2 separate regions of the Homo sapiens genome follow, and region 2 is linked to region 1. Evidence: fine-mapped QTL for protein levels in blood plasma. Region 1 holds a variant in brackets. A gene starts in the other region. All regions are shown on their forward strands.

Region 1 (5,379 bases):
AGACTCTGTCTCAAAAACAAAAAAAAAGAGCTGTAACACTCACCGTGAAGGTCCGAGGCTTCATTCTTGAGGTCAGTGAGACCACGAACCCACTGGAAGGAACCAACTCCAGACACAACACCACAAGAAACATTGGGGGAGAGGCCCCCCAAGACCCTAGTGACTCTAACCTCGGGAGAGAAGAAAGGTCAAGGAGTGAGGTCCGGATCACTAGCTTGAGGGGTGGGAGGGAGCAGCGGAGGGACGGAGGACCCCAGTGGCCAGAGCTGCCCTCGTCAGTGGCTGGTGCCTGCTCTCCTCACGTCTCTCTGCCTTGCTCAGGTGACGAGTCTCCCCAGGGCCCTGCACCCACCTGCAAGCATTTCAGACAGCGTCACGGGTGCCTGGAGGCTACCCCTAGACCTCGTTCTAAGCCTGCCCAGAGATGACTAAGGGAGGCTCCTGCATCTCTCTGAAGGGGCAGGAGGCAGGCTCTGGATGCCGGCCACTCACCCTCTGGCTCAGGATAGCCCTGGTGGCAGTCTCCTTCCTTTCTGCTCATTTCATTTCAATACATCAAGTACCTCCTCTACATACCAGGCTCTTTGCTGGGTGGCAGATGCCCCCAAGCCTATCCTGGCAGGCCTGGGCAATCAGCACTGTATGCCAGGCGCTAGGCCCAGCCTTCACTTGCAGGGTTAACCCGCCCCGCTCTGGCCACCTGGATCCGTGAATGAATGGGAGAATGCGGCTGCTCTCCAGAGAACAGCATTCTCTCAACCGCTTCTTGTCGCGCCAGAGATGGCCTCCTCGAAGGTGTGCTGGCAGAGCTGGCCTGGCCCAGTGGGCAGCCCTGTGAGGCCGCAGGGGTGAGGAGCCGCCAGCCACACCACATGGCTCTCCTGGAACGGAGCCACCTGAGCCCGGCCAAGCCGCCTCGAGCACCAGGGCTTGAGTCCATTGCAGGCACAAGGCAAAGAATTGCGACTTGAGGGAGGACCCGGAGGAAGGCAGGCTGGAGGGAGGGAGGGCGGGCAAAGGACAGCAGGGAAATGAAGGGGGCTGTGAAAGACCAGCACCAGATGAAAGTACCGAGATGTTCCGGACAGGCCTGATTTTCTTTATCTTCGGGGCTGGGACTGCCAAGAGGCCCCGGGGAAAGCCTGCAGGCTTCACTCCCACCAGAACCAGCACCATTTGAGGGACAGATTTCAATCCTTCCTTGGCCAGACAAGCAGGCGGGATGCCAGCGCTGGAGAAAGGGGAGGAGGAGGAGCGGTGGGCAGGCCTTTCCTGCTGGAGGTGGACACGCTGGGGGCGCTGAGGTTCAAGGCCACACAGTGAGGAGTGCAGAACCTTAACTGTCTCCTTGCATCGGCTGATGGCAGAGCTTTAGTTATAGCCATTTCAGGGAAATCCTGGTCAGTTAAGGTTTTCTAGTGCAGTTGGGATTTTCGCCTATATTTCCAGGTGCCTCTAAGGTCCTATGGAGCGTCCAGGTTTCACAGCTGGGGGAGGGACATCTGGTTCCCGGTCATTTATGTCCCCGCTGGCTTATGCAGGGGTGTCCTGCCCTTCTGCATCTCCCTCAGGGACTTGGGGAACCTTGGATGGTGTCTTTCCTCATACTGGGGCTGCAGGGGGCTCAGAACACTGCCTCTGACCCACTATTCCTCCATGACAATGATAATAACAAAATAGGTATTATTTACTATGTACACGCCCTGTTCTAACTGCTTAACACGTATTAACTCACTTAATCTTCCCAATACAACATAAGGTAGGTGCTACTGTCCCCCTCTTACAGATGAGAAAGCTAAGGCACAAAGGTGAAGAACTTGCCATGCCACCTCTCCTCCCTGCACTGGAAAACGTGTTGTGGGGTGGGCAACAGGGCTACAGAGAGCCCCTCGAGATCTTGTAGTCAGGCCTGGGGACTAAAGAACTTTGTCCCAACCTCTCATCTCTGGAGAGTTTTAGGGCTATTTTGAGACTTGAGGGCTAAGAATGACCTCTTTCCTTCTGAGCCTCCACGGCCTCCCTTCCCAAAGCAGTGGCGGAGGGACACCTGGGTCTCCTGGGCTGTGGGGTACAATGCATAGAAATAAAGTGGGGCTCGGTTGACGTATTAGACATTTATACCATTGGGGATGCTTTATTTTATATTTTAGCATTATTTATTTTTATTTTTTATTTTTCTGAGACGGAGTCTTGCTCTGTCACCCAGGCTGGAGTGCAGTGGCGCGATCTCAGCTCACTGCCTCCCGGGCTTCAGCGATTCTCCTGCGTCAGCCTCCTGAGTAGCTGAGACTACAGGCACCCTCCACCAGGCTTGGCTAATTATTTTTTTATTTTTAGTAGAGACCAGGTTTGACCATGTTGGCCAGGCTGGTCATGAACTCCTGACCTCAAGTGATCCGCCCACCTCGGCCTCCCAAAGTGCTAGGACTATAGGCGTGAGCCACCGCACCTGGCCTCATCACTGCCTTTTAATAAATGAGGCTGTCCTCTTGGAATCTCAAGCCATGAAAAGCCCCATATGGCAGGCAGACTCCTGCCAGGAAATCAAATTGATAGTGTGGGTAGTCCCCAGCTCCTCAATGTCTACCCCACCCTGGACCTCATGGGAAGCATTCCTGGTTGGGTAAATCCCTGAAACAGTTTTGGCCGGGCGCCGTGGTTTACGCCTGTAATCCCAGCACTTTGGGAGGCTGAGGTGGGCGGATCATGAGGTCAGGAGATCGAGACCATCCTGGCCAACATGGTGAAACCCTGTCTCTACTAAAAACACAAAAATTAGCTGGGTATGGTGGCGAATGCCTGTAATCCCAGCTACTCGGGTGGCTGAGGCATGAGAATCGCTTGAACCCAGGAGACAGAGGTTGCAGTGAGCTGAGATCATGCCACTGCACTCCAGCCTGATGACAGAGCGAGACTCCATCTCAAAAAAAAAAAAAAAAAAAAAAAAGAGTACAGTTTTTCAAAAACCTGATTTTCTGATGTAAACCTGTGATGGTCTCCTCAGCTGCCTCAAACACTGTCACATCCTACTGTGGATTCAAGCTGTCAGGATGTTTACACGGCCACCTCAAATTCCATTCCGCTCTCTACAAAAACTTATTTTTAGACGTGCACTGTCCCTTCTTATACATTCCTCAGTACTGGATCCTGGACAAATCTTTAGTCAACCTTAAAGTTTAGTTCAAAAGGCTCATTTTCTCATAGAGTTTGAGGCCATTTTTGTGAGTGGAGGAACTTGAGGTTTTAGGAATTTTATTTAAATCATGGAGATATTTTCGACTCGAATGGCTCTTAACTTTGATCTTGGGTCTAGGCTGCCTGGTTGAAACTACTACTGGTTTTCTTTCTTTTTTTTTTTTTGAGATGGAGTTTCGCTGTGTTGCCCAAGCTGGAGTGCGATGGCGCAATCTCGGCTCACTGCAACCTCCGCCTCCTGGGTTCAAGCAATTCTCTTGCCTCGGCCTCCCAAGTAGCTGGGTTTACAGGCATGTGCCACTATGCCTGGCTAATTCTTTTTGTGTTTAGTAGAGTTGGGTTTTCGCCATGTTGGTCAGGCTGGTCTAGAACTCCCGACCTCAGGTGATCCACCCACCTCTGCCTCCCAGTGCTGGGATTACAGGCGTGAGCCACTGTGCCCAGCGAACCTACTGGTTGGTTTTCAAGAGTTGCATCACTTTAACTGGAACATATCGGAAGAGTGGGACCAGATTTTAAGGTGAGTCAAGCCTGGCCTTCCTAAAACCCTATTGACTCCTTAATTCAGCTCAGGGCACCCCTTTGCCGCAAAAATCTCATCCTTTGAGACCCCTAGGAGAGGGTGAGTCGGGGAAGCAGGGGCCTCTCCTAGTCTGAGAAGTCTTAAAGGCAGGGGGGAGAAGTGCCGCCTCCTCATTTCATCTTTCTCTCTCGTTCTCCTCTCTCTGCCCTTTCTCTGTCCCTCCCTCCATTTTTTAGAAAATCTATAGAGGCAATGAGCTTTAGCAAATTTATCCAGTTGTGTAAATATTGCCACAAAGCAGCTTTATAACACCTCACTCACCCCCAATAGTCCCCTGGACCCTATTTGCAGTCAATCCCTGCTCCTTTCCCAGCCCCCAGCAACTACTGATCTGCTTGCTGTCTCTCTAGTTTTGCCTTTTCTAGAAATTGTGTAAAATGAATCATATACTATGTAGTGTTTGGTGTCTGGCTTTTCTCACTTAGCATAACATTTTTGCATGTACCGTAGTTTGTCCCCTCCATCTTTTATTATTATTATTATTATTTGTGACAGGGTCTTGTAGCCTTGTCTACAAGGCTGCAGTACAGTGGTGCGATCATGGCTCACTGCAACCTTGACCCCCTAGGCTCGTGCGATCCTCCTACCTCAGCCTCCCGAGTAGCTGGGCCCACGAGGGTATGCCACTACACATGGCAAATTTTTAAATTTTTTTTGTAGAGACAGGGTCTCGCTATGGCCCAGGCTGATTTCAAACTTCTGGGCTCAAGCGGTCTACCTGCCTTGGCCTCCCAAAGTGCTGAGCTTATAGGCATGAGCCACCATAACTGGCCCTTTTATTTTTATTTATTTATTTTTGAGGTGGAGTCTTGCTTTGTTGCCCAGGCTGGAGTGCAGTGGTGCGATCTCAGCTTACTGCAGGGGTTCAAGTGAATCTCATGCCTCAGCCTCCCAAGTAGCTGGGACTACAGATGTCCACCACCACGCCCAGCTAATTTTTTTTTTTTTTTTGGTATTTTTAGTAGAGACAGGGTTTTGCCACGTTGGCCAGGCTGGCCTCCAATTCCTGACCTCAAGTGATCCATCCTCCTCGGCTTCCCAAAGTGCTGGGATTACAGGTGTGAGCCACCATGTCCAGCTCTTTTATTGTTTTTTGGCTTAAAAAACAATTTTTTT[T/A]AAACAAAAACACACACACACACACACGTACTCAAACACACTCGCACACACAATTTTCTCACTAACCCTCTGACCTTCCACCCCAAGTCCTGACTTGGTCTTTGGGCCCTAAGATGCAATCAGGAAAAAAAGTGTGGAGTCCACACCCCAGTTGGGTCCTAAGTGGGTACCTACAGGGGCAGCCACCATCCAGCCTGCCCCAGCCCATGGGGGCCCAGGATGTAGCATCCCCAGTGATGGTGGGAGCAAGGGAGAAGTAGAGGTGAGATGTGGGCTGTGACATGTGCTTCCCTCTCCCTCCAGCTTGAGACCCTTGGCCTCTGACCAAGGCAAGTGAAATAAACATGAACGAAGCTGGGAGAATAATGTCAGTTTACTGAATGAATACATGGCTCGAGTCCATTCAGGGTGGAGTGAGGCCTGGCAGGTGCCCTCAGCAGTGGGACCCCAGGCCACTGGACCTGGCAGGGCTTCTGGGCTAAGGG
Region 2 (5,379 bases), not on the chromosome of region 1:
TTCATTAAGTGTAAAGTAGTGGACTTTTACTTAAATACAATACTGAAAATTACTCAAAGATTAATGACAAGACAAAAATCAGAATGGTAATTTTTGTAAATTGGCCATTAACTCCATAACATTATCATTTTTTTCATCCTTTCACAATGCCTCATTAGAAAACATACAAAATTAAGTGTCAGATTTGTATTTACCACACTTCTAAATTGCGTAAAAATATCTTTACCACAATCAGTGATTAGTGGAAAGCATGGTGAAAATATTTGTAAAGTGTGCTAGTCAGTTCCAGTTGCAATGAATTATTTTGAGGGTCATGGAACCTCTTTGAACTTTCTGTTCAATCTTGGGATACTTCCCAGCTGCAAAACACAAAGACAAAAATTCAGAGCCTTAGCTTTAATAGCAAAGAATAGGTAGGAATCAAGATACTCAGTTTTTTCTAACTAAATTTTACTGGAACTTTACTTTACTAAATGTCAAGAAAATATGGATTTTGTACAAAAGTGAAAATTTTTAGTTATTTACAATTCCAATGAGTAATTTTGAGAGTCATGTAACCTCTTTAAACTTTCTGTTCATTCTTGGGATACTTTTCAGTTGCAAAATACAAAGATAAAAATTTAGAGCCTTAAGTTTAATAACAAAGAATAGATAGGAATTGAGATACTTCGTGTTTCCTAACTAAATTTTACTAAAACTTTATTTTACTAAATGTCAAGAAAATATAAATCTTGTACAAAAGTGAAATTTCCAGGCTAAAAAGAAATGGTTATTAAAATGGTTCTATAAGAAAAAAACAAGGGGTCAATGAACTCTACCTTGGGGACTAAGGGGAAATTAAAGAAAAGGGTCTTGAAGACTTGGTCATATAATCACTCAAAAACTGGACTATCATGTCCCACTGCCAGTGTAATTTGCCTCAATCCTGGACATATCTATGGTTAAATATGTTTAAGTCCTGCAAGTACAACATGACTTTTTCAACCATATTTTTGGCTCTACTATGCACATACTAGTATTTGTTCAAATTCTTTTAAAGGAAACACAACTCTTCAAATGTGGTTTTACCTTTATCAACTGAGTGAACTGATCAACCTCTCTGGGAATAATAAAGAAGACCTGCATTGTATTTTACAGTTGTATTGGTAGTTCTATTATCACAAGTAGTTTTTAAATGGCTTTACAGTGATTTGAAATCTAGAAAATGTCCCTAAAAATAAAGCATCTTGCTGGCTTCAAAAAGAAAATCACACATAAAGCCGCACAACAAAGGGGAGGGGAGAGGAAAGAGAGAAACATTGAAACATTTCTGTTCCATGTGTTTTCCATGGTGGAGATAATTGATTTTCTTAGTGCTGTTGTAGAAAGCGCTGCTGGCATTCACTGGCCTACTGAGTTCATCACAGCTGTGCTTGTGCATCTCTCTCAAGCTCCACTTTCCACTGAATTGGAAAAGATTTGAATTTTTGGTTGATAATCTGCCACACCCTTGCTTTGCCTCATCTTTCCAGGCACTCTCTTTGTTAAAGGAGATCCAGATTAATCAGTGCTTTAGTTGGTGCAGGTATTTAGATTTGTGTTAAAGCTCCAAATGCAATCCAAAAAGCAAAATGACATGTTTATGTGTCCTGGTTAACATCAGTGAAGTCAGGGAAGTATGGGAAGAAATGTGTGGCTAGATAACAATGAGGACAGCAGTTCCTGGATGGCATAATAGGATTCAGAAGTGTATGCATTTCACCTAGTTCAGACCCTGTATTAAGAAATGCTTTGACCCCGTATTAGGAAATGCTTTGACAGGAGGTAGAAAAATAGGATCTGGGACACAGAATGCAAAGGATCCTAGTGCAAAACCTCCATATTCGAGGTAGTGAAGAATCGTAAATCAGAATATCTGGAGAATGAATTCTCTAGGTCTCTCCTGAAGACCTTAAAATACAACAATCCTTCCATATGCAAAACATCAGCTAATGTTTCTTAAGTGAGTGCATCAATCATGAATTTTTCTCATGAGTATAAGGCTTTTATTTGAATAGCTAAGCAAATTAAGAATTTTAGAACAATAGTAATTTTATTTATAATGCCTAAAATAAAGCATAACAAGCATTATTTTAAAAATAACATTTCTAATTTTTCACAGTGGAAAATAAATCTAATGAAGAAATTCAATAAATTTCAGCTTTTATAGACCACCTAAAACAATGAGAGAAATCTAATATAGATATATGAATTCTACGTAGATACAAAGACATCATGAGAAAAACTATGTTTCTGAATTGGTTTGAACACAGGAAATATTTTTTGTGTACAGGACAAAGATGTCTGAAAGACAGAAAGATGCATATAACAGCCTTTCCCCAGCATCTCTACTGTGATCCAGTAGAAAAGCTTATATTCATGACCATTCTCAACAGTTACTTTTCTCCCACGCCCCCAAGCAGTGACTCTCCAATCTAAAATAAAGATACACAAGAGGTTGGTCTCGTTCTAGTTTTCCTTTCCTGTCATCAAATGATGTCATCTACATTGAGATGTCTTGGTTTGTGTCCTTGTGACTGAAGATATAAGAAAGCTTGGGAGGCCGAGGCGGGCGGATCACGAGGTCAGGACATCAAGACCATCCTGACTAACACGGTGAAACCCCGTCTCTACTAAAAATACAAAAAATTAACCAGGCGTAGTGGCGGGCGCCTGTAGTCCCAGCTACTCGGGAGGCTGAGGCAGGAGAATGGCGTGAACCCGGGAGGCGGAGCTTGCCGTGAGCCGAGATTGCGCCACTGCAGTCTAGCCTGGGCGAGAGAGGGCGACCCCGTCGCAAAAAAAAAAAAAAAAAAGATGCAAGAAACAAGAAAGCAAGTTTGCCACTGTCCATGCTTACAGGATTCATGTACACCTGGGAATATACATATGACATGAGTTGAGTGAAAATTTAGTAACACAAATTAGAAGAAAGAGAAAGATGAAAATTAGTTTAAAGGAGGTAATTTACTTAAGGAGGAAAGTTTTGCATTGAGGCATAAGGAAGTGACTTCCATTAATTGGTGTGAAATGGGGAGAATTTTATGTGCACAGGCATAGAGACGGACATGTTTAGGTGAAGGTGAAGAAAATTAGTTCAAGTGACCTTGATTAGAATTGAAATGTCCACCGTAGATTATAGAGATAGATGAACTAACTATGAACTGATGATTAGGGTGTAAAGAGATATCTCCATTGCCAGATATAGCCTTATACTGTGGACAAGCATATTTTTCCTGCAGAGATTTATCAAAGACCTATAAATGGTATTTGCCCCTCTTTCAAATATGACACAAAAATTACTGCTTAGATAGATCCAGAAATACATTGGAAAGTTTTGTGGATGAGGATCTGGAAAGTATACACATAAAAGTCTAAATTAGAAATATTTATACTAATCTTTAGAGTAATGCAGAAAAAATGACCACTTTCTCTGGTACTCTTTTGCTATTCTATGTGATAAACTCTTTCTCTTCCAGTTTCCTAAAAAGTTATGTCATGAAAAGGCTGAATTTTTCTCTAGAAAAATCTGCTCTGTCTTTCCCAGGCAGCATAAAAATTGGAAATCTCACAAGAAAGCACTCTGGCTTGCTAAAGAAATTTGTGAGAAATGGAAACAGCTATAGATAAGTATCTAACTTTTAGGAAGCCATTCAAACATTGCTGAAATACTTTGTCTTTTGATATTTGCCTGAAACTTAACTTCTAGGACCCAGGGTGGGTGGATGAGTCGAAGGGGCATACGGTGGCATTTCTTTCCGTGAGTCTCTTACAGTCTCCTATTTAAATTGAGTTAGGATTACTTCTGGCAAAATCCCAACATAAAAATCTTCTAGGAAGATCAGTTCTGTAAATTAGACATACTAGATAAATGGGCATCAAGCAGTTTTTCAAAATTATGCAGTTGTTAACTTCATAAGGGGAAATAAAAATGTATGCATTTACATTGTATGTATTAAAACAAGGCAGAGCATTTCTATACGTTCCTAAGTTATACAAACATATATGTAAGAGTGAAATATGTAAAAAAACTTTTACATAAGCAGATGCATACAAACTCCAGATGTGCTCTTTTTCTTACTGTGGGTTGTGTCTTCTATAAGGGAAAAAGAAATATTTATCATTTCTTTTACTGCTGAGGGGATGGGTGCGGCTCTCATATTTCAGAAAGGGGCTGGAAAGTGAGGGAAGCCAAACTTTTTCCTATTTAAGGCCAAAGCAAAGGAATCTCAGTGGCTGAGTTTTATGACGGGCCCGGTGCTGAAGGGCAGGGAACAACTTGATGGTGCTACTTTGAACTGCTTTTCTTTTCTCCTTTTTGCACAAAGAGTCTCATGTCTGATATTTAGACATGATGAGCTTTGTGCAAAAGGGGAGCTGGCTACTTCTCGCTCTGCTTCATCCCACTATTATTTTGGCACAACAGGAAGGTGAGTAGGTACTGATTTCAAGAAACTTTATGGGATTTTTGTCTTTCTTCTCCTCACAAAGAGGGGTGTAAAGGGGAAAATCAGTTGCCTGATTCAAGATAATTTCCTCTATAAGCTCCAGATTGTGAAACGTTGAACTGACCATGGCTGTGCTTTTTACATTACTTGAAAAATAATCGCGTTATGTGTGTTTTTAAGAGTTCTGTGGTTAAGATAAGATGTTCTTGTACTAACTTGTTTTCATGTTAAAGGCACTGGAAACTTTTAAAAATGGCTTTAAAATTTTTCCCTCCTGGATTGTTAACATCTTGGAATACTTCCCCAGGCAGTCTGGAAGTTATTGGTCTCTTGCAATAATTTTATGTTCCTCTTTGTCTGCTGGATTCTTTGTAAGGTTAGAATATTGAGCATTGTTTTCTGAATAAGAATGCCTTTCAAATATCATGGATTAAGAACAGTCTAAAGGAAGATTCTACGCATTATCAGAATCATTGAATATATTTCTGTAAAATGGCTACAAGATACCTATAAACATTCTTCAAAGGGATCAAACTGCTAAAATATTTTATTATTCCTGTTTTTATTTTGTTTCAAGAATGATTGATTAATTCATCTTTTCTAGTAGCTTGATATTAAGGGACTAATATTTTCCACATATTCTACGTTTTAACCACATTCGCATTAATGAAGAAAATATTTTTTAAAATGTTTCAACAGGAGGTTTGACTTTGCTGCAAACAAGGTAAAGATACTAGTACTGTTTGACTTCAGAAAGCTGTTTTGCTATATTTTCTAATAATTGCATGTAATGTTTTTCATATTCTAATTTCCCCTAAAAACACATTTGTCTCATTATTTATGTGAAAATATTCTTTTATTTACCATAGTCATGAAAATGCTGAACAAATTGGAATACAAACTTCCATAGAAA

Direction of the effects. Positions count from the first base shown, and alleles are read on the strand shown. Strength reflects both the effect of a copy and how common the allele is.
As copies of T replace A in region 1, the plasma level of the protein whose gene starts at base 4,253 in region 2 goes down (moderate association).

What was found. PIP is the chance, under the fine-mapping model, that this variant and not a neighbour inherited with it causes the effect. The UK Biobank Pharma Proteomics Project read protein levels with antibody pairs (Olink). The fine-mapping took linkage between variants from a reference panel, not from the people measured, so its PIPs are less certain.
Region 2: it holds the start of COL3A1, and the variant in region 1 is fine-mapped to the plasma level of the COL3A1 protein (UK Biobank, PIP above 0.99).

What each region holds. Positions count from the first base shown.
Region 1 is chr17:62,696,065-62,701,443 of GRCh38, forward strand. It overlaps MARCHF10 (membrane associated ring-CH-type finger 10), which reads right to left. Exons shown (of 11, transcript NM_152598.4): 11 at 5,250-5,379. Among named protein-coding and RNA genes, the nearest start is that of MARCHF10-AS1, 7.5 kb to the right of the region's middle. The variant T/A (reference allele first, on the strand shown) is at 4,895.
Region 2 is chr2:188,970,121-188,975,499 of GRCh38, forward strand. It overlaps COL3A1 (collagen type III alpha 1 chain), which reads left to right and starts at 4,253. Exons shown (of 51, transcript NM_000090.4): 1 at 4,253-4,448. The coding sequence starts at 4,370. It overlaps LOC105373791 (a long non-coding RNA gene), which reads right to left. Exons shown (of 3, transcript XR_007087614.1): 2 at 227-359.